Homo sapiens: one gene and its partners. The protein of the gene in region 7 purifies or fractionates together with the protein of the main gene of each other region. This does not show direct contact. Each region holds a gene or a part of one and is shown on either strand. Other genes may lie near its edges.

The links.
Region 1: the proteins of GAR1 (region 7) and FARP1 purify together in Homo sapiens (affinity purification with mass spectrometry; 2 studies listed by BioGRID and IntAct, with this or other methods). This does not show direct contact.
Region 2: the proteins of GAR1 (region 7) and SHQ1 purify together in Homo sapiens (affinity purification with mass spectrometry; 3 studies listed by BioGRID and IntAct, with this or other methods). This does not show direct contact.
Region 3: the proteins of GAR1 (region 7) and GEMIN5 purify together in Homo sapiens (affinity purification with mass spectrometry; 4 studies listed by BioGRID and IntAct, with this or other methods). This does not show direct contact.
Region 4: the proteins of GAR1 (region 7) and FARP2 purify together in Homo sapiens (affinity purification with mass spectrometry; one large-scale study listed by BioGRID and IntAct). This does not show direct contact.
Region 5: the proteins of GAR1 (region 7) and ESF1 purify together in Homo sapiens (affinity purification with mass spectrometry; one large-scale study listed by BioGRID and IntAct). This does not show direct contact.
Region 6: the proteins of GAR1 (region 7) and GSTA1 purify together in Homo sapiens (affinity purification with mass spectrometry; 2 studies listed by BioGRID and IntAct, with this or other methods). This does not show direct contact.

Annotation. Positions count from the first base shown.
Region 1 is NC_000013.11:98,146,094-98,149,593, reverse strand, and holds part of FARP1 (FERM, ARHGEF and pleckstrin domain-containing protein 1), read right to left. Parts: intron 1-3,500. UniProt on the Homo sapiens protein: Functions as a guanine nucleotide exchange factor for RAC1. May play a role in semaphorin signaling.
Region 2 is NC_000003.12:72,810,446-72,813,945, forward strand, and holds part of SHQ1 (protein SHQ1 homolog), read right to left. Parts: exon of another isoform or gene 2,350-3,500; coding exon 2,226-2,349; intron 1-2,225. UniProt on the Homo sapiens protein: Required for the quantitative accumulation of H/ACA ribonucleoproteins (RNPs), including telomerase, probably through the stabilization of DKC1, from the time of its synthesis until its association with NOP10, NHP2, and NAF1 at the nascent H/ACA RNA.
Region 3 is NC_000005.10:154,886,911-154,890,061, forward strand, and holds the end of GEMIN5 (gem-associated protein 5), read right to left. Parts: intron 2,508-3,151; coding exon 2,411-2,507; intron 1,468-2,410; coding exon 1,300-1,467; 3' UTR 501-1,299; downstream 1-500. UniProt on the Homo sapiens protein: The SMN complex catalyzes the assembly of small nuclear ribonucleoproteins (snRNPs), the building blocks of the spliceosome, and thereby plays an important role in the splicing of cellular pre-mRNAs.
Region 4 is NC_000002.12:241,429,285-241,432,784, forward strand, and holds part of FARP2 (FERM, ARHGEF and pleckstrin domain-containing protein 2), read left to right. Parts: intron 1-2,394; coding exon 2,395-2,490; intron 2,491-3,500. UniProt on the Homo sapiens protein: Functions as a guanine nucleotide exchange factor that activates RAC1. May have relatively low activity. Plays a role in the response to class 3 semaphorins and remodeling of the actin cytoskeleton.
Region 5 is NC_000020.11:13,757,420-13,760,919, forward strand, and holds part of ESF1 (ESF1 homolog), read right to left. Parts: intron 2,435-3,500; coding exon 2,273-2,434; intron 1-2,272. UniProt on the Homo sapiens protein: May constitute a novel regulatory system for basal transcription. Negatively regulates ABT1.
Region 6 is NC_000006.12:52,801,017-52,804,976, forward strand, and holds the start of GSTA1 (glutathione S-transferase A1), read right to left. Parts: upstream 2,801-3,960; 5' UTR 2,769-2,800; intron 1-2,768. UniProt on the Homo sapiens protein: Glutathione S-transferase that catalyzes the nucleophilic attack of the sulfur atom of glutathione on the electrophilic groups of a wide range of exogenous and endogenous compounds.
Region 7 is NC_000004.12:109,822,000-109,825,237, reverse strand, and holds the end of GAR1 (H/ACA ribonucleoprotein complex subunit 1), read right to left. Parts: intron 2,892-3,238; coding exon 2,750-2,891; intron 1,274-2,749; coding exon 1,205-1,273; intron 821-1,204; coding exon 807-820; 3' UTR 501-806; downstream 1-500. UniProt on the Homo sapiens protein: Required for ribosome biogenesis and telomere maintenance. Part of the H/ACA small nucleolar ribonucleoprotein (H/ACA snoRNP) complex, which catalyzes pseudouridylation of rRNA.

The DNA of each region.
Region 1 (3,500 bases), on a different chromosome or scaffold from region 7:
AGACTGTTTCAAGTGTTGATCAAGATTGGAGTAACTAGAAGTCTCATACATCACTGATGGTAACATAAAATGGTGCCAACGCTTTCTTACAAATAGCTTATTATAAAGTTAGGCACACACTTAAAGACCCAGGAGGAAAAATAAAAACCTATCTCTACACAAAGATTTGTTCACAAATGTTCACAGCAGCTGTATTCATGATAGCCAACACTGAAAACAACTTGAATGGCCAAAGGGGAGTGGATACGCAAGTCATAGCATATCCAGCCACGGAAATACTGCTGAGCAACAGAAAATAAACTAATAAAGAGGATGGGAAAGACAGTAGCAAGGGAGCAGGGAAGAGGAACAGAAGAGAGGGAGAGGAGAAGAGGGAAGAAGAGAGAGAGGAATAAAACTAAAGGAGAGCCAGGCATGGCAGTTCATGCCAGTAATCCCAGCACTTTGGGAGGCCGAGGCAGGAGGATCACTTGAGCCCAGCAGTTCAAGACTAGCCTGGGCAACATGGCAAAACCCCATCTCTAGTAAAAATACAAAAAATGAGCCAAGTGTGGTGGTGCTTGCCTGTAGTTCCAGCTACTTGGGAGGCCGACGTGAGAGGATCACTTGAGCCCAGGAAGTTGAGGCTGCAGTGAGCCGAGATCATGCCACCGCACTCCAGCCTGGGCAATGGGAGTGAGAACCTGACTCAAAAAAAAAAAAGTAAAAGAGAGAAGAAATACCTAGACATGTCATAGCCAGACTGCAGAACACCAAAGCATCTTAAAAGTAGCCAGAGAGAAAAGGCAGACTAGTTACAAATAATTAGACAGCAACAGCAATGGGACCAGAACACAGCTGATTAATACAGGAACAATACAGAATTGCACACCCAGATAAACTTACCATTCAAGAACAAAGGTATCTAAGACATGCAGAAACTGAAGTTACCACCAACAGATGCTAACAGAATTTCTAGAAGATGTGTCTCAGGAAGAAGGAAAATGTATCCCAGAAGCAAGCTTCAAAGTACAAAAAGGAATGGTGAGCACATTAAATTTACAGACAAGTACCATATAAAACAATTAGAATGTCAAATTTGGCGCAGGTTAAGAAATGAGAAGGCTATATAAAAGAACAGATCCCAAAATGCTAAGGTAGGAGTCAGTAACAGGTGGCAGGATTTCAAGTTTGTTTTATTTTCTTCTTCATGCTTTTATTGTCTTGTGTTTTCTTGAAACGGAGTTTCACTTTTGTTGCCCAGGCTGGAGTACAATGGCGTAATCTCAGCTCACCACAACCTCCGCCTCCCGGGTTCCAGCGATTCTCCTGCCTCAGCCTCCCGAGTAGCTGGGATTACAGTCACGCGCCACCACGCCTGGCTAATTTTGTATTTTTAGTAGAGACGGGGTTTCTCCATGTTGGTCAGGCTGGTCTTGAACTCCTGACCTCAGATGATTCGCCCGCCTTGGCCTCCCTAAGTGCTGGGGTTACAGGCGTGAGCCACCGCACCTTATTGTCTTTTTTTTTGAAAAGGAACCTCTGTCTTTTTACAATCTGACTTAGCTTTAAGGATTCAATTGCTAAATTAGAATGAAATGAAAACAAAATCAAATATCAAACTGCCAGAACTGCAATCTATCAATTCTAATAACAAGTTTCCTTTAAAAACCCTAAAGACTAATTTGAAGGGATGGTAAAAACTGGATTTATTATTCATTCAACAAGGATTTACCAGACTGGGCAACATAGCGGTGAGACTCTCTAAGAAAAATTTTTTTAAAGAAAAAATTAGCTGGGCGTGATGGCATGTGTCTGTAGTCACAGCTACTCGGGAGACTGAGATGAAAGGATTGCTTGAGCCCAAGAGGTCAAGGCTGCAATGAGCCATGATCACCACTGCACTCCAGCCTCGAGTTTTTTTCAAAAAGAAAACAGAACACAATAATTTACCAAGGGTTTGCTATATTCAGATACTATACTAGATCCTGAATGAACAAGAACAAAAACTGAAAGTCATCATAATACTGGATTTTTAAGTCTTCTAATTGATAATAAATTTATGCAAAGCATTTCGTCAAAAGTCTGCACATAAAGTGAAGTTACTCTTGTGGTCAGAGGTTATTATCATAATTGAGAGTTAAAGGCAGTCTAGTGTGGCCTGAGGCTCTTCTTTTTTTTAATGTGTGAACAAATATGACAGTTTTACATATGAAATTCATTCAGTGTAAATGATGAATTCCCACATTAATTGCAAGTCTTGAAGTTCATAATTTCCATCCCACATTAAACTAAGAAAACTTAAAATCTGAGTTAACAGTTTGCAGGCAGCACTGAGCATGCCTCAGTTTCAGTCTCGCCGGATTAGTATCAAAAGCTTCGAGCATGATATTTTAGTAATGTATCCATTATCCACTTTTGCTCAAAGTATCCACTTGGCCAAACATTTTTAACTAATTCAAACCAGGGCAAGGGCATCCTATAAAAAGTTTTGCCAGTTTTAAATACACGTTTTCTGGGGGCTTCTTGATTGAAAACAAAGGCTGCATTTGGCAGAACAGGACTGGAGAAATCAGTATTTCAAGTAATTTGAATGAAAACCGTTTGGCTCTGATCTTCCTGGCCATGTGGAAGTGGTTAAGGAGGTAACAGCCTACCTAAGTTGCCATGGGTGAAACAGAGAGAAAGGACTGTGACCCAGTACCACCACAGAATAAACTCTGACACTAAAAGACAAGAAAAGAAGTTGATCCGCTGCTTCCCATTCAATAGCCAGGCTTGGAGAGGCTCCTTTCAATCAAAAGCACCAAACAACAGGAGAGAGACTGCCACGAGAGCCTAAAACCCCACAGCCTCCCTTCCCAGGCAAACGGTAACCAATACAGGGAATGCCTGTCCTTCCAAAGTAGAAAGACTTTAGCACCTGCATTACAGGACTATACCTGCCCCTCTTATCTGTAGCACCTTCAGCTGGTGAGGAAAGTGCATTTCTCAAAAACACTAAGCAGTTATCTGCAATAAGCAAGGCCAGTTACAAAGGGCTTCTTTAAAATGTCCAGTCCACCATGCTATCAAAACATCAGGCAAGGCCAGGCTCTGTGACTCACGCCTGTAATCCCAGCACTTTGAGAGGCCGAAGCGGGCAAATCACCTGAGGTCAGGAGTTCAAGACCAGCCTGACCAACATGGAGAAACCCCGTCTCTACTAAAAACAGAAAATTAGTTGGGCATGGCGGCAAATGCCTGTAATCCCAGCTACTGGGGAGGCTGAGGCAGGAGAATCGCTTGAACCTGGGAGGCAGAGGTTTCAGTGAGCCGAGATTGCGCCATTGCACTCCAGCCTGGGAAACAAGAGCAAAACTCCATCTCAAAAAAAAAAATCAGGCAAGTACAGTACTTACAAATCCACAGAATTTCTCTTATCCTCTGGGAAAATCACAATGCCATTTTTCCTAAGCATATTCTGCCTGCAGAAACCAGCCTTTTATCCTTTCTCTAGTATTCTCTAATCCCGTCCAGGA
Region 2 (3,500 bases), on a different chromosome or scaffold from region 7:
TGAAATATTCTGTAGTTTCTGAAGCATTCCTACATTGGTTTTGAAAGCTCATTCCATTTAAGATCAATCCTTCTTTGGAGCCAGGGTTATTCATTACTTTCAACTATGGAACACTATACTGACCTTTATAATAAAAAGTGTGAACACTGACTGCATTTTGAATTATAAGTAGGCATGAATTCATTCTTGGAAAACACTAAATGCCAAACCAGAGCTACCTTTATTTAAATTATGGGGTGTTCAAACAAATGAGCCTCTTCAGCGGCAATAATGGCATCCCCGTGCCATCCACCTGTACAAAGACAGGTGACGATTCTCATCCAGAACATGTCATCTCTACAGCTTCTGGCACAAATTCTAGACAACCCAGCCCTCAGTTTTAGCACTAACTAGCCACAACCCAAATTAGTCACAGAACACACTGTACATGGTACATAGAGGGTTCAGGTTCATTTTTAGCAGAGGCCTCCAGTGTGTTACTTCAAGTTTTATGTTACTATCATAACACAGCTGATAAAACTATTTCTTGTCAGAGTGATAATGAATAAAAATTAAGTCTCAATTTCAATTCTGACCTACTAAAACTGGGTAATTGATTCCTGTGTAAGTCAAGGCAATCGAATTTATTTTTGGTTATGCAATCATAGTACTGATTACTTTTCCAATGAAAGTCAAAAGAACTAGATTACTTCCCAGAATAAAAAGTAACAAGCAATAGTCTGTATATGTGAGTGAGAGTGAGAGTGTGTGAGTGTGTGTGCAAACAGGCATGTGGAGGTTTTGCCAATTCTCCATCTGGAAGCCATGATATAACAGGATAATCGCAAACTGCATTCTCACTGGTTTAAGTCCATGAATAATGCCCAGATAATCTAGCATGACTTAAAAAAGAAATGAATTGTGACGTGTAACTGAGGCTCACACAGTCATTTATAGTAGATTGATTTTCCAAGGTACTTTTAGCAATTCAAAAAATATCTTAGATGGAAGGCAAGAAGAAATAACACATGAAAAAACAAAGCAGTTTGTTTCCCACTGTTAAGTTAAAGAAGATAGATTTCTCAATGATAGCTCTTTCATCCTATAATCAACAATCCTTCAAAATAAAATACAGCTAGTCTAAACCAACTGGATGAATAAAAAGGCATCTTTCATCTAACCATGATTCATTTTTACAATTACTGTCTACTTTAAAATAATCTATTTCAAACATGATTTTCTTCCCCCATCCCCACCACCAGGGCAAGAAGACTACAGGTTACACAGAAAGCGAAGTACACTTCCAGGTGAGACAAAACATTTGAGATGTGATTCTCTTCTTTAGGCCAGTGAAGTCACCTGGAGGTAGAAGGAAGAACTTCCTTTCTTTCCCCTTCTTATTCTGAAGTCTGAAAACCAAGCTCCCAGAAACACTTTTATCTAAGGGCAAAGGAATGATGAGTCTCCCCAGGGGGAGAATATAAGAAATGACCATAAAGTACTAAAAGTGACTTTTAAATAAATGTGCCAGAACTAATACATACAAATGGATGTTGCCCCCTTCAAAGTCATTATCTTGGAAATTATATACTTATTCTAATGATGATACTATGGGCACTTTGGAATTTGTTTCAGAGCCCAGAATTTTCCACATCCTTAAAGCTAACGAGTGTTTGTCTTTTCAGGTTGAATTTAGCAAGTCAAAAGTGCTCAGAGTAGCTGAGCTTTTTGTTGGAAAATCTTTCTTGACATGCCGAATCTAGGTTACATGTCCCCTCCTAAACGATCCCTGGACTTCTCCCAGCAGAGTACTTTTCACTCTCTTTGGAATTGCTAACTTACCCATCATCTGTCTGACAAAACTGTAAACTTCAACAGAGCAGGGAACTTTTCTGCCTTCTTTATTATTAGACCCACAGTCCCACCATAGAGCCTAGAAGATTATAGGCAGCCAAGAAATACTGAATGATGCAGCTATTATAATGTAAAACGGTTTGCAATACTATGTGTGCCTTCTCTGTTTACCTTCCTTACTCCTCTCGGAAAAGAGTCTTTATTATGCCTCTATGCAATTACTTATCTACATATGTCTTATACACAGGAATTCTATACTTTAAAAGTGGTTGGATTCATTTTTCATTACTTATTTATATACAGTAAAAAAGCAAAAATCATTATTATATCTTCACAGACTAAAAACTTACAACTTTTTCCCTCCCAAATTTGCAAGTACAGTAATATCTTACCCAGTTGCAATATCTTTATAGTGTCCCTGTAGGCCTTCATCACCAGCTTGAAATGGCGATAGAGTGGGTAACACAACACCCTTCTTCCAAAAGACACCATGATATCATGAACGTTAGTCCAAGTCTGTGAAGTGTCATTTTAATAAGCAGTCATTTCCACAAAATGTTACACAAACAAAAGTACACAATGAAATAGGAAGCTTTTCTCATTTAAAAGCTGCAAGTTCGGATCATTGTGAAGCCAAGTAGAAGAGAAACATAAAACCATGAAATAAGATTCTTTTTGTATACTTTACAATAAAACAGAATCTTAGTTTTTGTAATTTCTCACACTATCAATACATCACAAATGTCACAAGAAAGCTTTTAAATAAAGTCCTAAAGATTACAAATAAGAATCTAAAACACATGGCATTAACAAAATACAGATGCACATAAAGGACATTTTAATATAATTTACATTTCATGTTTTTGTCAGCTAAGGCTATTCAAGATGGCACAGATCAAAAATGTAGAACTCACCGGGAGTGGTGGCTCATGCCTGTAAAGCACTTTGGGACTCCAGGCGGGTGGATCACCTGAGGTCAGGAGTTCGAGACCTCCCTGGCCAACATGGCAAAACCCCGTCTCTACTAAAAATACAAAAATTAGCCAGGTGTGGTGACAGGCACCTGTAATCCCAGCTACTCAAGAGGGTGAAGCAGAGAATAGCTCGATCCTGGGAGGCAGAGGCTGCAGTGAGTCAAGATGGCGCTACTGCACTCCAGCCTGGACAATAGAGTGAGACTCCATCTCAAAAAAAAAAAAAAAAAAGGCCGGGTGCGGTGGCTCATGCCTGTGATCTCAGCACTTTGGGAGGCCGACGGGCGGACCACAAGGCCAGGAGATCGAGACCACCCTGGCTAACACGATGAAACCCCGTCTCTACTAAAACTACAAAATTAGCCGGGCGTGGTGGCAGGTGCCTGTAGTCCCAGCTACTCGGGAAGCTGAGGCAGGAGAATGGCGTGAACCCAGGAGGCGGAGCTTGCAGTGAGCCAAGATCGCGCCACTGCACTCCAGCCTAGGTGACAGAGCGAGACACCATCTCAAAAAAAAAAAAAAAAAAAAATACATAGAACTCTTTAGTAAAGTATGTTCAGTTTCCTCTCCTCTTTTTCTTTTTTTTTTTTTTTTTGCACTGGACATGGGTAATACAAGACATTTACTTGAGTAATTTGCTTTTGCTTATCAAACTGATTTCTAGGAAAAAAGGTGTTGTATCTTGAACGGTAT
Region 3 (3,151 bases), on a different chromosome or scaffold from region 7:
TCCCTGGTAACAAAGCATCGTCTTCCTAAAGTTCACTTCACTGTATGAAGAACTGTGAGGATCTAAATTCTACAGTATTTCCCTTTGTGAGTTTATTAAACTCTAATGCTAGGCACATACACGTCTTTGAAAACTGCCTCAAACTTTCTCCTTCCTGGGACTTCCTGTAAATGAATTTCATTCTCACTGTCCCAACAGCTCCAATCCTAGGAATTAATTGAAAAATAAACTACAAACGTGAGCAGAAAAGCCTTCACAATGAATCCTAGAGAAAACAGTTCAATTATCTGAAAGGAGTGTTCCTTCCTACACCCATGCCAGACTCTGATTTTCCCATGCTAGCAACTGTGACATTACAGAAACATCTGTTCCTGACACTGTTCAACTGTTTAAATAACCAAGGAGGAGAAAAAAAAGATTTATAATTAAATAGTATTTAGGGTCCCAATAGTCAGAGTCCAATAATCCAAAGGTCATCTATGCAAAATTAGGAATATGCATTTTTCTCCAAAGAGTATCTTTGGCTTTAATCTGATTCTCAAAAGGATCCTATGATCCAAGAAAGTTTAAGAACCATTGAAACAGTAATTTATTCCTGAGCTATTTGACTGCCATCAATCCATTTGTTATAAAACTGAAGGGAAAACACACATTTGAATCACTTCTTCTAAAGCTTTAGTAAGTGATCTGTTCAAATAAGCAATTACATGAAAGAATAAAACCAAATTTCCAACCTAAAATTCTGACAGGAGAGTCAACATGATGGTTAAGGCCTATTTCATATTCAAACTTCAGTCTATGAAAGAGTAGAGAGAGAAGGGTCTCCTCTTTCAAATTAAATATTATAAAAACAATTAAAAAAAGGTATCAATAGTCCTAAAATGCAGCAACTCCATCTCAAACAAGCATGACACACTTCTGATCAGATGAAGTATTTACAAAGGTAGCTTGTGTTTTAAGCATGTAACACTTTGGGTGACGACAGAAGTTTCTCCTCTTTGGGTGAAACCTGCCTAAGGCTGTAGAGATGACCAACACTCTGCAGGTGTTAGTTCTGAATAACTACTGTGGGCTTTTCATGATCTTCCCTCCAGTAGGAGACCACAATTGAGTCTAAAGTCAGATCCACCGTTGTCTATGGGTAGGCAGGGTTGATTCAAACTTAATCCTTGTTTGTATTCTTTTGGATTACTGCAAAAACATCTAGGGACCAGAGTGAATGTCTGGTGAGGCATAACTGCAGAGGTGAAAGATGTCAAACATTTTCAATTTGGCAGTTTCTTCAAGGTGTGTGAAAATTCACATACAGAAGGTCTGGCAGTGTCTTCTGTAAGTTTTCGTGTTGCCGTATTTCTGAAGGAGCTCTTGGGCCTGCTGCTGCATTTCCTGGGCCAGACAGCCAGGAAAGTGGGACCTGATGAGAAGCAGGACGAGGCAGCACTCCAGCACATCTGGGAAGGGCCAGGCCTGAAAGACGATGACATGAGGATGAATAAGGAAGCATTTGCAGAAGAGCCACAAACACCTGCACAGAAGGCACCAGTCACTCAGGTTCATCTATAGACACTTCTTGGACACAGCTGAGCCAGCTGTCTCCTAAGGCAATGTCCTGTCTTTCTCTTCAACAGTTACTCCAAGGAGAAATGACACTCAAAACTAGGATGGCTACTGCGATGTCCTTCTCAATGGCACAATCTCTTTCTACAGCCCTATGCAAATCCACCCTTAAAAATGGTGCTTCTATTAATATTTGGGCCCACAGCCAAAAAGACCTGTCCATCTGTAAGCTATCTAATACATGGCACCAATTTAAATTTTACTTCTTACCTATTAAATCTATTTGGTTTCTCTGAAGATTGAGGTATAAAATTACTTGTGTGATCGATAATTCTAGTCTCACAAAACATTCTAGCTAACCAAAGTAATTGGATTCTAAATTCTTTTTTTTTGTTTTGTTTTTTTTTTGAGACAGAGTCTCGCTCTGTTGCCCAGGCTGGAGTGCAGTGGCGTGATCTTGGCTCACTGCAAGCTCCGCCTCCTGAGTTCACGCCATTCTCCTGCCTCCATGCTATTCTCCTGCCTCAGCCTCCCGAGTAACTGGGACTACAGGCACCTGCCCCCACGCCCGGCTAATATTTTGTATTTTTAGTAGAGACGGGGTTTCACCATGTTAGCCAGGATGGTCTTGATCTCCTGACCTCATGATCCGCCAGCCTCAGCCTCCCAAAGCGCTGGGATTACAGGCGTGAGCCACCACGCCCAGCCTGGATTCTAAATTCTTAAGCACATATGAATGGGTAGAGATTTTAGAAACTGAACAGAGAGGTAGCTGACCTTTATAAGAATGTGGTATAGTCAAGTGATAACACAAAAAGTGATGCTTTACCAAATGAACTGCTTTAACTCTTACCTTAATGCTCTCAGGAAATTTCGCCATTCTCTGATTTGCCTCGGTAAGCCTTTTGGTTAACTCAGGCAGAGAAAGTGGCTCATTTTTTTCTTCTTTACTAGTGAAAAAAATAAAAGGTGTAAATTGTATGTCTTGCCCTGGGTAACATTTTTCTCCCATTGTTATTTTACTGTGGTAAAATGTATATAACATAAAGCTTACCATCTTAGCCATTTAAAAATACATAGTTCAGTGATTTTAAATAAATTCATAATGTGGTGAAAAACATCCCCACCACCCATTTCCAAAAACTCTTGTCATTTTGTAAAACTGAAATCTTATACCCATTAAACATTAACTTCTCATTCTGCTTCCCTTAGCCCCTGTCAACATTATTCTACTTTCTGTCTCTATAAATTTAACTATTTTGAGTAGTTCATATAAGTGGAGTCATATAGTATATGTCTTTTTGTGACTGGCTTATTTCACTCAGCATGATGTCCTCCCTTCGTAAGGCTGAATGACATTCCATTGTATGGATATGGCACATTTTGCTTATCCATTCATCTGTCAGTGGATACTTAGGTTGCTCCCGTGTTTTGGGTATTATGAATAATGCTGCCATGAACACAGGTGTGCACATATTTCAGACCCTGCTTTCAATTCTTTTGGGTGTATACCCAGATGTGGAAGTGCTGGATCCTATGGTCATTCTATTTTACATTTCTGGAGGAAGTGCTGCTGTACTGTTTTCCACAGTGG
Region 4 (3,500 bases), on a different chromosome or scaffold from region 7:
AGCAAATGCTGTACCCAGGCATTATGTCTCTCTGGTCTCTGCAATCTGGAACATTCTTCCTCCTTTCCTTGGTTTTCATGACCTTGACATTTTGGAAGATTACAGGGCAGTCATTTTGTAGAATGTTTATGATATGGGATTGTGCAGTGCTTCCCCAGGATCAGACCCTGGGCTCACTGCCTAGGTGAGAAACTCCCAGAGTGATGATGCGTCCTGATTCATGTGGCACATAGGGTCCATCTGTCCCATTGGTGGTGGTGGTGGTAACATTGATCACTTGGTCAAGATGATGTTTGCCAGCTTTTCTGTATACAAAGTTGTTTTTGACTAGGTAGTGGCTCATGCCTATAGTCCCAACAGAGGCTGAAGCAGGAGGATCACTTGAGGCCAGGTGTTTGAGACCAGCCTGGGCAACATAGCAAGACCCCATCTCTACAAAAGGTCCTGCTGGCCTTTACCTGAGATGCCCATCTGCCTTTAACTCGTTAAACAAGAAAAAATTAAAAATAGAAAATTAGCCAGGATTGGTATCAGGTGCCTGTATTCCCAGCTGCTCCAGAGGCTGAGACAGGATGATTGCTTAAGCCCAGGAGTTTGAGACTCCTTATCTCTTAAGGAAAGAAAGGTTACTTTTTGTCCTTTGTTACTAAGTATTTTGTGGAGCGATACTTTGAGACTAAGTAAATATCTTGTACCTCATCACACTCATCTTCTAGTTAGATCACTATGATGGTTGCCCAATGATGACTCTTTAAATCCCATTCTTCCTACTACTGGAAGGAAGAGTTTTCTCTCCATTTATTTAGTTTATGTCACTGTGGATTCATAGATTCAAATCTGATACTTGATAATCTGTTGGTTTCATTATTTATTTTTATCTTTAACTTTCCCACATTTGGCCCAAGGGAGACTCTTCAAGCTGCCTCTTGTGTCCTTCTCACATGTCCTTTCATTTTATGAACACTTCTTTGCTTTCTTACAGAATAAGACATGCCAGGCTTGTTTTGTACTTTGCCTGCTTCACTGTGGAGTCAGCCATTTCCCCACAGAGCCCAGCCGTTTTAGTGAAGACTGGTATTTAGAGACCAAGATCCATGCACTCAGTGTGCCCATTGCTTTGTGGGGTATCACCACTTCTGGCCCTCTCAACAGACAATGCTACACACATGTACATATACCCACTCACCTCATATATCTATATTTACCTCTATATCTGTGTCTGTATCTGCTGAAACCAGGAATTCCCATCATTCGCTCCTGTTACACTCTAGCACTGTGTTCTAGCTTCAGTGAGAAACCTGACTCTACTCCCTGCCCTGCCTGGCCACTATCACTGCCCCTTCCAGACCACCCTCCTTGCAGGAGTGAACTTCAAAAAATGTATATTAACATTGATTTTAAAATTTTGCAATAAAACCTTATCAAAGAAATTAAAATTAGCCAGGCACAGTGGGTCATGCCTGTAATCCCAGCACTTTGGGAGGCAAGGTGGACTAATCACCTGAGGTCAGGAGTTCAAGAGCAGCCTGGCCAACATGGTGAAACCCCATCTCTACTAAAAATACAAAAATTAGGTGTGGTGGCACACACCTGTAGTCCCAGCTACTCAGGAGGCTGAGGCAGGAGAACTGCTTGAACCCAGGAGGCGGAGGTTACAGCGAATGGAGATTGTACCACTGCACTCCAGCCTAGGTGATAGAGTGAGACTCTGTCTCAAAAAAAAAAAAGAAAAAAAGTGCAAATCTTTCCACTTCTAATTTTCCATTTCCTATAAATATTTGAAACAATATGAGGAGAGATACAAGTCCCAGTGTATCTTCCTGGTGAATTGCTTTTAGATGATGTAAGCCCTCTTTCTCATGCACTGTGTCTGATGATAATATTGCTCCAGCAGCTTTCTTTTGGTCAGTTGTTAAGTACATCTTTTTCCATCTCTTTGAACCTTTCAGTGTCCTTGTGTTCCAGATGTGCCTCGAGTTTGAGACCAGCCTGGGCAACAGAGCAAGACCTCATCTCTACAAAAAAAATTAAAAATAGAAAATTAGGCAAGAGTGGTGTCTGGTGTCTGTAGTCCCAGCTGCTCCAGAGGCTGAGGCAGGATGATTGCTTGAGCCCAGGAGTTTGAGGCTGCAGTGAGCGGAGATTGGTACCACTGCACTCTAGCCTGGGCAACAGAGCAAGACTCCATCTCAAAAAAAAATTAAATTATCTTTCTAGAACAGATAGATTAATATGTTTAGTTATTGACATTTTAAGTCAGCTATCTCAGATATAATGGTAAAATGCCAAGTAGAGTGCTGTGTTGGCAAGGATGTAATTTAAGCATTCCCTATTTCATGAGAAAGGGGTTATGTGCCAGATACAAATGTAATCTGTCTGTCTCTTGCATTTCAGGGCACCACCAAAATCAACACTTTCAACTGGTCCAAGGTCCGTAAACTAAGCTTCAAGAGGAAAAGATTTCTTATCAAACTTCATCCAGAGGTTCATGTAAGTATTATTTTCAACTTTTTATTTTTATTTTATTTTATTTATTTATTTATTTATTTTTTTGAGACGGAGTTTCGCTCTTGTTGCCCAGGCTGGAGTGCAATGGCATGATCTCGGCTCACCGCAACCCTCTGCCTCCCGGGTTCAAGCGATTCTCCTGCCTCAGCCTCCCAAGTAGCTGGGATTACAGGCATGCGCCACCACACCTGGCTAATTTTGTATTTTTGTAGAGACAGGGTTTCTCCATGTTGTTCAGGCTGGTCTCGAACTCCTGACCTTAGGTGATCCACCCGCCTTGGCCTCCCAAAGTGCTGGGATTACAGGCTCACAAAGTGCTGGGATTACAGGCGTGAGCCACCATGCCCAGCCTATTTTGACCATTTTTTAACTCATAATTTATTCTGCTAAAACATAATTACTTTGTAAATCATTTCAGCATAATGCACACAAGAACTCAAGGACAGGATTCGGGACTTAGGTCTGGAGGGGCTGAGGGCAGTCTGCCTAGCTGGTCTCACACTTACCTCCCCCAGGAACTTTGTCACTCACGTGTTGCTGGCTCAAAACCCCAGGGTTTCAGCTTCAGCGGGTCTGGGATGAACCCAAGAAGGTGCACATCTGACAAGCTCCTAGGGGTTGCTAAGAACCATGGTTATTGCAGCCTCTTTGTTCTCTAGGTAAGGAAGCTGAAGAACAAAGTGCTCAAAATGATCTGAAGCCCTACAGCAGCTGAGAGCTTCAGAATGAACTGAGGAGTATCCCCAGTGTTCTCTTGTGTCCTTCATTCAGAAATTGATCTTTGAATAGCTCTAATTGAAGAAGCCTTGATTATCAGGGAGTAAATATTCCCTTCTTTACTGACTGCTCATTAATAAAATAATAATTACATATGAATTTACTGAAATGAGTAAAAATGGAAAAAATAAATGCCTGTGCAGTGTATTTGGTAAAATCCAGTACTTCCAGTTATTCAAAGATGTTCCAGTTGCTGCATTTCCGTTGTACAAAAG
Region 5 (3,500 bases), on a different chromosome or scaffold from region 7:
CAGGGTCTCATTCTGTTGCCTAGGCTGGAGTGCAGTGGCATGATCACAGCTAACTGCAGCCTCAACCTCCTTGAGCTCAGGTGATCCTACCACCTCAGCCTCCCCAGTAGCTGGGACTACAGGCGTGTGCCACCATGCCCAGCTAATTTTTGTATTTTTTTGTAGAGATGGAACAGTTTTGCCATGCTACTCGGGCTGGTCTCGAACATCTGAGGCTCAAGTAATCCACCCACCTTGGCCTCTGAAAGTGTTGGGATTACAGGTGTGAGCCCCTGTGCCCGGTTTCATAATTATGTTAATAAAGACACAATCTAGATGTGGTCCACTTAGTGTGGGAACCTGTATCATATATCTGTACCTTACAACTGGCATTATATATTTCTGAAATATTTGCTATAAAACACCTCAATCCAGTTTATTTTAGATCTGCTTTCTCAGACAACTGAACACTTCAATTTAAAAATGTTCATATTAAAATATATTCAATAAGCTCATTCTAAGATTAGAATTAAACTACAATATATTCAACTTAAAAGACAGAATTCAACATTTCTTAGAATCATAAAGTCAAGGGACTCAAGTAAAATATTTCTTAACAGACATCTCTGAGTAGCATAATTATGTAGCCTTATGGTGGAGATTTACTGACACAGAGAGCTCAACCCCTTAAAGCAGCCTTCAGTTCTTCTGCGAGACAATTCTAATAATATAGAGAATTCCTCTTTATATTATTACGTTAAAATCTACCTTCCTTCAACTTTTATCCACTGGCAGTACTGCTAACCTGTGAGGTAATAAAAGAGATTAAGTCTTCATTTACATATTCTGCAAGTATTTAAAAATAGCTGTTAAAATCACTTTTTAGACTTTTCCTCTCCAGGCCAAATCAATTGAGTTCTCCCAACCACTTGTCATATGATACACCAGTAAACTTCATTCGTTCTTACCACCACTTCCTGCAAAAGCCAAACATTTAAAACAAATGGGTTGCAACACAGCACTTCATTCCTGTAGGAATATGCAGCAGACCATCCTAGCAAATTTACTACAATAGCCAGTGTCCATCCTAGCAAATTTACTACAATAGCCAGTCAATCCTCAAATATCAAAATACCCTATTTTTTTCCCAAATAAAAACCCACGCAAACATATGTTTTATTCCCAATACAAAAGCACGCTACTTATAAAAATGGAATTGGTAACAGAACACCTTTAAGTTTTAAGCAATGGTATTCCTACAACTGGTTAGTACTCTTTCTCCTAGTGACTAATATAGGCTAAAGAACTGAACCCTTATCCAAAAATATATCTGGTTTTAAAAGTTATACACATATATAATATAAACAGCAGTAATCTATAAAAACAGTATTGACTGCAGAAGTCCCTGATGATTTGCCCAACAATGTTGAAAAAAATGTGTACAGTAGTCCCCCATTATCTGAGGAGGATACATTCCAGGACCCACAGTGAATGTCTGAAATCATGGATAGTACTGAATCCTATAGCTAGTATGTTTTTTCCTATACATCTACAGCTATGATAAAGTTTAACTTATAAATTAGGCACAGTAAGAGATTAACAACACCAACAATAAAACAGAATAATTACACTGTAATAAAAGTTATATGAATATAATCTCTCTTCCTCTTTCTCTTTCAAAGTATCTTATTGTACTATACTGGGTAACAAACTGCAGAAAGTGAAACCATGAAAAAGGGGCAACTGCTGTTTACTACAGAATGATCCCATTTATCCCAGCTTTTATCTTTGTTTAGCTTTGACATGATTTTAATTAGTTTTGTACTAGTACTATTTTACTCTACTATGCTATATTTCTTTGACTATTCGCAGCAAGATTGAAAATCGAAGACTATGTAATACATATTTTGTGTTAGTGAAACCTCATGAATTAAGGACTAGTGGGGGTTATGGAAGAAAAGGTCACTTAAGAATTAAACATTCAAAAGAAGTGTAATAACTTTAGAACACGTGGTGCCTGGATTCAAGTTTCTATATCTTGAGAATACAGGCTCAAACCTAGGAAAAGCTACTCTGATAAATGGACAGGAAAAATTTATAGTTAGTAAATCAAAGAAACCAATTAAAAATAAGTTGGTAAGAGTCTAAAATGCTAGTCATTAAGTTAGTTAAATGGTGTATGCAAATATGATGTTAAGGTCCTCACCAAAACATTTCCGGCTCCTTCATATTTAAAAGGTACTCAACATGCTGAAATTCGAAAAAGAGAAAACATTTAGTATCTAATTCTTACCTGGAACCCATTTAATTTCCATTTCCATATCATTTTCTTTGCCTTTCTTTTCTTTTTCTTGAATAACCTGCAAGAGCTGCCTGTATTTAGCAATTTGTTCTTCATCATCCTTCTGACTTTTCTTTGTTTTCCCATCTTCTTCTACATTGACTCCATCATCACCTAATGAAAAAAAAATTCACTTAATACACAGAAACAATTCATTTCTAACTCGTGTTCAGATCTTATGGTCACTCTCTTTTAAAAGATGCTGTTAGACCACAGGATATCAAAATCAGACTTAAATTTCTGAATATTAAATGAAAGACTTAGGGTCTCATGTAGAATAAAAATCAGTTGCAATATAAATTTGCACTGTCATAGCAGTATGCTTGGGAATGCCCCTTTTTATTAAAATTTATATTGGATAATAATTCTGCAGTTACATAACATCTTTGGGCTTCTTTTTCCTATAAGCTGCAAGATAATGAAGATGGCATTTTCACCCTCTCTGGGAAGTGAGGAGCGTCTCTGCCTGGCCGCCCATCGTCTGGGATGTGAGGAGCCCCTCTGCCTGGCTGCCCAGTCTGGAAAGTGAGGAGCGTCTCTGCCCGGCCGTCATCCTATCTAGGAAGTGAGGAGCGCCTCTTCCCGGCCGCCATCCCATCTAGGAAGTGAGGAGCATCTCTGCCCGGCCGCCCATCGTCTGAGATGTGGGGAGCGCCTCTGCCCTGCCGCCCCGTCTGGGGTGTGAGGAGCGCCTCTGCCCGGCCGCGACCCCGTCTGGGAGGTGAGGAGCGTCTCTGCCCGGCCGCCCCATCTGAGAAGTGAGGAGACCCTCCACCCGGCAGCCACCCCGTCTGAGAAGTGAGGAGCCCCTCCGCCCGGCAGCCGCCCCATCTGGGAAGTGAGGAGCCCCTCCGCCCGGCAGCCACCCCGTCTGGGAAGTGAGGAGCGTCTCCGCCCGGCAGCCGCCCTGTCCGGGAGGGAGGCGGGGGGTCAGCCCCTGCCAGGCCAGCCGCCCCGTCTGGGAGGGAGGCGGGGGGTCAGCCCCCACCGGCCAGCCGCCCCGTCCGGGAGGGAGGTGGGGGGGTCAGCCCCCGCCCGGCCAGCCACCCCGTCTGGGAGGTGAGGGGTGCCTCTGCCCGGCCGCCCCTACTGGGAAGTGAGGAGCCCCTCTTCCCCGGCCACCACCCCGTCTGGGAGGTGTACCCAACAGCTCATTGAGAATGGGCCATGATGACAATGG
Region 6 (3,960 bases), on a different chromosome or scaffold from region 7:
GATTACAGGCATGTGCCACCACACCCGGATAATTTTGTATTTTTAGTGGAGACAGGGTTTCAGCATGTTGGACAGTCTGGTCTGGAACGCCTGACCTCAGGTGATCCACTCGCCTCAGCCTCCCGAAGTGCTGGGATTACAGGAGTGAGCCACTGCACCCGGCCTCAACTAATGTATTTCTAAAAAGGTATGTATGACTAAAATTAGGCATCAAAATCTTTTAAATGTCTCATTTTAAAATATGGGAGTCAATAATTAACCTTTGGAAAGTAAAGAATTCTTTGAAATCATACTGAATCAACTCACCTGTTTTGTCATGAGATATTTTGACATTGTACTTTCTATGATAACTCCAGGAGCAATTTAAAGTAACTTGGGAAATGGAAATAGCATAATTTGACAGAGTGAAAGGGAGAGTGAAGTTCAGATGAAAGCATGGGGTATGCTTGTTTAATTGTTATCGACTAGAGTTCACAGTGTTGTAATTCCAATCCCCAAACTAAACTCTCTTAGCCATTGATTGAGGATCATGTTTCAAAAGGAAGTGAAATTTTATCTTACATAATATTTTATCACAACACTCCTGCTGATAACTAGCATATCACTTTCTCAATGTGAGGTTTCCAAGGGTCAGGCTAAGACTGAGACATAGGTTACCATTGAGCTTTGTTGGGTCAACAGAAAATGAGAACCAGAGAGCTCAAGGATTTGCCATGGGTCACACACACATGCTCCTCATTCATAGTCAATATCTAGGGAGTGTGTTTACCTTCCGCAACAACCCTGGGAAATGGCTCCTATTATCCAAATTAAAGATGGGCACACTGAGTTTCAGAGAGCTAAAGCACCTGTCTCATGCTGCACACTTGGTGAGTGTTGGGTCAGCCTTAACTTCTGATTGCAGGTCCAGAGCTTTTCCACTCCACCTCATAACCTGGCTCTCAGCTCCTGTCTGAGAAGTTGTTTTGTATTTTCCTATTAAATATATATTAGCCAAATAAATGTTGGAAGGAGAGGACGAGAGGGGAACATCTAATTCCTGAGTTCCTCCTGTTAGCAACTTTTCAGGGGCTTGCTTGGAAGAAAAAATTGATAAAACTGTGACTTTCTCTGATTTGACAACCTAAAAATCAGAGTGAGTTGAGGACTAGTATAATTACTTTACATCAATAATTAACTTACATCAATTAAAAAATGGGCTTGTTTTGAAAGGAATATAAGCTCTCATAATTCCAGGAGTAAATTAAAGGAGTTACATTTACATCTCTGAGGTGGTCCCAATGACACTGTTTCTTATCAGAGAGAAGGGAGAATGAGATAAACTATGACTCCTTCCATTATGAGATTCATAAATGCAGTAGGTTGTTTAATCTCTGAGCCTCAATTTTCTCTTCTTAGAATAGAGATAGTTATTTCTACTTTTGAGGGTTGTTGAGAAAGTTAAATGAGATAATGTACAAAAAATTCATAGTAGGAACACAGCAATGGGTGTTTGCTCTTGTCCCAGTGCTTGGAAGATGGGTGAGTCTCTGGACATATTGAGTAGCCCATGGATCCTCTTTCTTTGATCTATCTATCCATCAATTATTTTACTGACCAACAATCTATGTATATGTATCTATTTATAATCTCTGTCTACCCATCCATGTATGTATTATTTTATCTATCAATCGTTCTATGTATCTATCTCTTTGTAATCTGTCTCTTCATCATCTATTATCTGTCTTGTATCCATTTCTCTGGTTCTCTATATTTTGTTCATAGAACTCGAGTAGGAATAAGATTTTATATGAATCCAGACTTATATCAAATCTGTCATATGATGGCTCTCTGTTTCTCTCTCTCTTTCCTTTTTAGCTCCTGTACAGAAGATATTGATATTCACTAATCAGTCCACCTGGATTAACAGGAAATTTTCAGTGAATGTCCAAGCAGTGGGGCACATCAGTAACACAGCCTTGCTTAGCCCCATGAGGTCATGTAGTCCCATGGTTCTCAACCAGGGGGATTTTGCTCCTCTGCTCCAGAGGACATTGAGCAAGGTCTAGAGACATTTTGGGTTGTCATATCTGCGGGGAGGGAAAGGGGGTTACAAATCAGATAGGTAGAGGCCAGGGATGCCTAGAAACATCCTAGAGTGAGCAGGACAGATCTCCATTCAAAGAATTACACAGTTTAAAGGGCAGCAACAGTCGGAGCCTCTTTCTTAGCTATCCTCTATATTGGCCATGAGTTGGTAGAACTCCAGAGACAGAATATGACTTGTCTTTGAGCTAATTAGTGGCAAAGGCTCAACTAGAATCTAGTTCTCCTGACATTCAAACTAATTTATTCTAATTATACTAAACCTGAGTTTTGTATTTTCACAGCCAATATAGAATTACAGTGTCACAATTTACAATTGTGTGTTGACTACTTACACAGAGAAATAAATTTTTGCATACATTGCCACTTCTTCCAGCACTGATTATTCTCAGATTGTTTAAAATGCTACCATTTCTTTTTTCTCTTCATGTCATTGTTTCCCATACCATTAAATGCTGAAGCCCTGGTTTTCTAAATTCTTCATTTTTACAATTCTGTAAAGATGTATCCAACAGAAAAGAAATAAACAATTCTTGAACTGTCACCCAAGCACACCAAGACGGCACAATATGAGTAAAAACAGACTTTTCCTTGTGCTAAGGACACATATTAGCATATTTTTCTAGGAGGCTAGAGAGGAGGGTGTGAGGCAATGTAGAGAAATTTATAAGATCAGTACTTACTTTGTTAAACGCTGTCACCGTCCTGGCTCGACAACTGAATTCCAGGTCCTAATGTATTTATAAGCTCTTTGTTCCTCTCAATAGTTCTCTCCCACTGAAAGAAGAGTCAAGTTAGGGAAAAGCCACTCCCACACATTTCATGGCCAAGGGGCCACCTACTGGATTCTAAGACATGAGGCAAGTGATCTGCTTATCAGAAGACACTGGTTAATGTGTTCCTTTTCAAGGTTGGCAATCAAAGTTTACACAATACATTTCACCGAGATTTTGCTCTTTTTGCAAGTCAGCAGAAACTGGCTTTTTAAAGATGCTTTTTTTCATGAGTTGGGTGCAAAGACTAGGGCAACTGAAAAATCTCTATTGTGAGCATAGCTGGGAGAGGATGTCTGTGAAGGGCAAGCTGATGCCACCGTTTTCTTACTGGGTTGCCAAATAAAATATAGGACATCCATGTAAATGTGAATTTCAGGCAAACAATCAACAATTTTTTAGTTATAGCTATGTTCCAAACACGGTATGAAACCAGATTATACTGAAATATTATTTATTGTTTATCTGAAATTCACATTTAGGTGGGTATCCTGTATTTTATCTGACAAATCCAGAGACCCTATTTGCATATGCTATCCTCTTTGCGTCACTCAAATTGCCCATAATATAACAAATCTGAAAGTATTCATCACCTGGATTCATCAATTGCAAATAATCTTATTTCACCTATACCATGTAGGGGGTTATGTTGGCCCCCAAGAAAGATAGGTCCATATAGAAATCCCTAGATCCTGTGAACTTGATCTTATTTGGAAAAAGGCTCTTTGCAGATGTAATGAAGTAAAAGAATTTGAGATGAGATCATCTTGGTATATCTGGATAGGCCCCAAATCCAATGACAATTGTCCTCACAGCAGAGAGAAGAGAAGACACAACACACAGGGGGTGAGGTGCTGGAACACAGAGGCAGAAATTAGAGTGATGTGGTCATGATCCATGAAAGTCCAGAAAGGCCAAGAGCCCCCAGAAGCTAGAAGACGCAGGGAAGGATTCCTGGAAATCACTTCTAATCCAAACACGCTGGCACAATGACACACCAGGGAAAAATAATTTTGCATATAGTTACTTATATGTAATTCGCATATACCATCTGTATCTTCGCAGCCAGGCCTGAGTGGCACTGAAGGAACTGAGGGAAGGC
Region 7 (3,238 bases):
GTAGTATACTACACGAATATTTACGTGTAGTAAATAACACCTTAAACTTTTAGAGTCCCTTTAAAAAAGTAAAAATAAAATAACATTCAGTAAAACTTCTAATATTCCATTTATGTTGGATGAGAAAAATTAACTTTAGAAATTTCTTGCTATAGTTTTCACTTCAACAGAGCTACTGCATCTTTAATACATTACTAATATGGAAAATTTTTAAATCAATTATTAATTGCAATTAGAGAAACAGCTTAACTGATTTATGTATTAAAATACAAAAGGCAAATACAAAGCTATCTTCTCATACATAAAAGGCCAGGGTTTTGAAAGGCAGTGTCAACTTGTAAATTATCTTAAAGTACTGCTACAGTAGTCTATTTTTTAAAAGATCAGTAATATAAATAAACAAATCCTTTTTTCGATCTGCAATTCACTGGGTTTAAGCTTTAGTTATTCCTTTCTACTTTAAAAAATGGGTTTCATTTAATAAACACACTCTAAATAACTTAAGGGAATAAAACACTTTATTTTAAAAATTCAAATATGCTTCAAATGAAAACTCCTATCCATTTATTGAGCACCCACAGAGTGCCAGGCACTGTACAAAACATTAGAAAGACTTGTTCATGCTCTTTTAGAGCAAAATTCACTATTCCGTTGCACTTTGCATGATGCTGACATTTTAGATCCATTGTCATAAAATGACCAAGATCTTCAAGACTTGTTCAAGAAACAAGTTTCCAATCCATAGTAGAAACAGATCATGCAGGTTAATGCAGAAGTCAACTGGTGATGTCTGTCAACTGTTTCACTTAATGTCCTCTCCCTGATTAAGAGAAAATTAAAGTATTAAGGGCACAGAAAATGGATTTTTAATAGTATTATAACCTAAATCTCAAGTTTAAAATCAGCATTAGTTCCAATAATGTTTAGCAAACATACTTTACCAAATTTAACTGTCATTCATATTACACCTTTATTTTTCAAATTAATAATAAAGCAAAACAAATTAGAATTAGGTGAAAAAATTGAAAAGAAAAGGCAAAAAAAAAGTGATATAAAATGAAACCACAAATTAGGCTAAGCAAAGAACACCATGGTGTTCTATATACTTGCTGGCAGAGAAAATTAAACTTAAGTAAAAACAGAAAATGCCAGATAATATCAATTTTAAACATTAAGCAATTTAAAGACTTTTTAAAATACTCACCTCTGAAACCACCACCTCTTCCTCCTCTGAAGCCCCCACCTCCACCTCCTCTTCCACCTCTAAAACCACCTAAAAAACATTTATTAAATAATAACGCAAAGTATTTAAATAACAATAGAATATAATAATCATTAAGTTATTAACTGTATAACCTCTTATATTGATAAGCCTAAAAAGATCAATACAATAACTATAATTATAATGAATAAATATAGATTCACATATTTTATCAGGGAAAAAATTTTAGAAGATAAAAATGGAGAAACTGTAGTAGTTTACCAACTGGGCAACAGGCTAAAACCCCAGATTATTCCATTTCAATAAATTAGAAAAACTTGTTAAAGTATGATTCAGTCTTGTTAAATGTATGACTATTGCCTTAGCTCTTGCTTATGATAAATACTTTTTTGATTCAACTAAGGATAGTTTGATGGAACTGTGGCTTTTTATCCTAACAACAAAGGGTGGCAGATATGGGTGCTTTTGCTCTGGGGGTAAGATAATAAATATGATAGTTAAGATTAACTGAGCTACATAAGTAAGATTTTAAAAAAATAAGACAGCTGTGAATTTTTTGAAATGTTAAATGATACTCAACATAACATGAGAATAGGGGAATCTCTGTTCATCAAATTCTCAAGAAGGTACCCCTGAGAATTTTCCTACCTATATGGACACAAAAAAATACCTTTATGGAGTGAAATGGTGATTAAATTGAGAAACGCCAAAAGTGAGGCGTTCCTTCTCTTTTTCTGATCCAGTAACAAAAGCTGTCCAAGCCCAACTTTCAGCTCCTCTCCCTTTCCACTTTGGCTCTGCCCATCACCCCATCACTCGCCCTTCTCCTACTCACAGGGCATGGCAGCCCCACTCCCCAGAGCCCTGCTCATCACCTAGCTGTCCATAATGATGAATGTGCCCAAACCTTAGGGGAAAGGCATACATCAAAACAGGCATACATCAAAATACCCCAAAACCTTGGGGGAAAGGCATACATCACAACAGTGAGATCACAGTAATGAATTTATTAGTAATAGTTCTTGACATGACATCAGAAGATATGCATTTTAATTCTTGGGTCTGCCAATTGTTTGATTGGGGCAAATTAATTTCTGTAAGTCTCCGTTTCCTCATTCATAAAATAAGGATATCATCTATCTCAAAAGGTTTCGCTGAGTATTAAAAATATATACATGGAAATTAAAAGAATGTATGACCAGCTTTCAGCATGCAGTCTACACTCAATAATATTAACTAAGGAATTAAAATTAAGATAATCTTACGGTTTATTAAAATGTCCAAGAAAACATGAATAACCCAAAGAAATGAAGTCCCTCAAAAGTATACTTTAGTAGATTTTCTTCTTTTTAAGTAAGTTGTTGAAATGAAGCATTATTATTATGGACAATCTGCCAATATTGGAAAGCAGCTTTAATAAAAAGAACCATAAGGGAGGTTTGCTATGTACAAAGCTAAATTGTATTGTATGAATTAGCTGTGAAAGTCACAGTTAATTTCATTAGAAATTTTCCCCAAGTAACTTACCGCCTCTGCCACCACCTCTGCCACCTCCTCCTCTTCCTCCTCCTCGGCCTCCCCTGCCACCACCTCTTGGAGGTCCTTTCTCACCTGGAGGTCGAGGTAAAAACCTCTGCAGTGGCAGCAGCTTATATGGGTCTATATAAAACTGGAAACATAATAGAAGCAATTAGTATACAACTTGGGGGACAGTATAATATAATCATTAAGAAGCTACATGATAGAGTCAAAACTGCCTGGGTTCAAACCCCAATCCTACCACTTTCTACTACATATCCCTGGGTAGAGACTTAATTTCTTACTAACTTAGGTTTCTTTTTTTTTTTTTTTTTTTTTTTTACCTTAAGTTCTGGGATACATGTGCAGAACGTGCAGGTTTGTTACATAGGTACACATGTGCCATGGTGGTTTGCTGCACCTATCAACCCATCATCTAGGTTTTAAGCCCCGTATGCATCGGGTATTTGCCCTATTGCTCTCCCTCCCCTTCCCCCC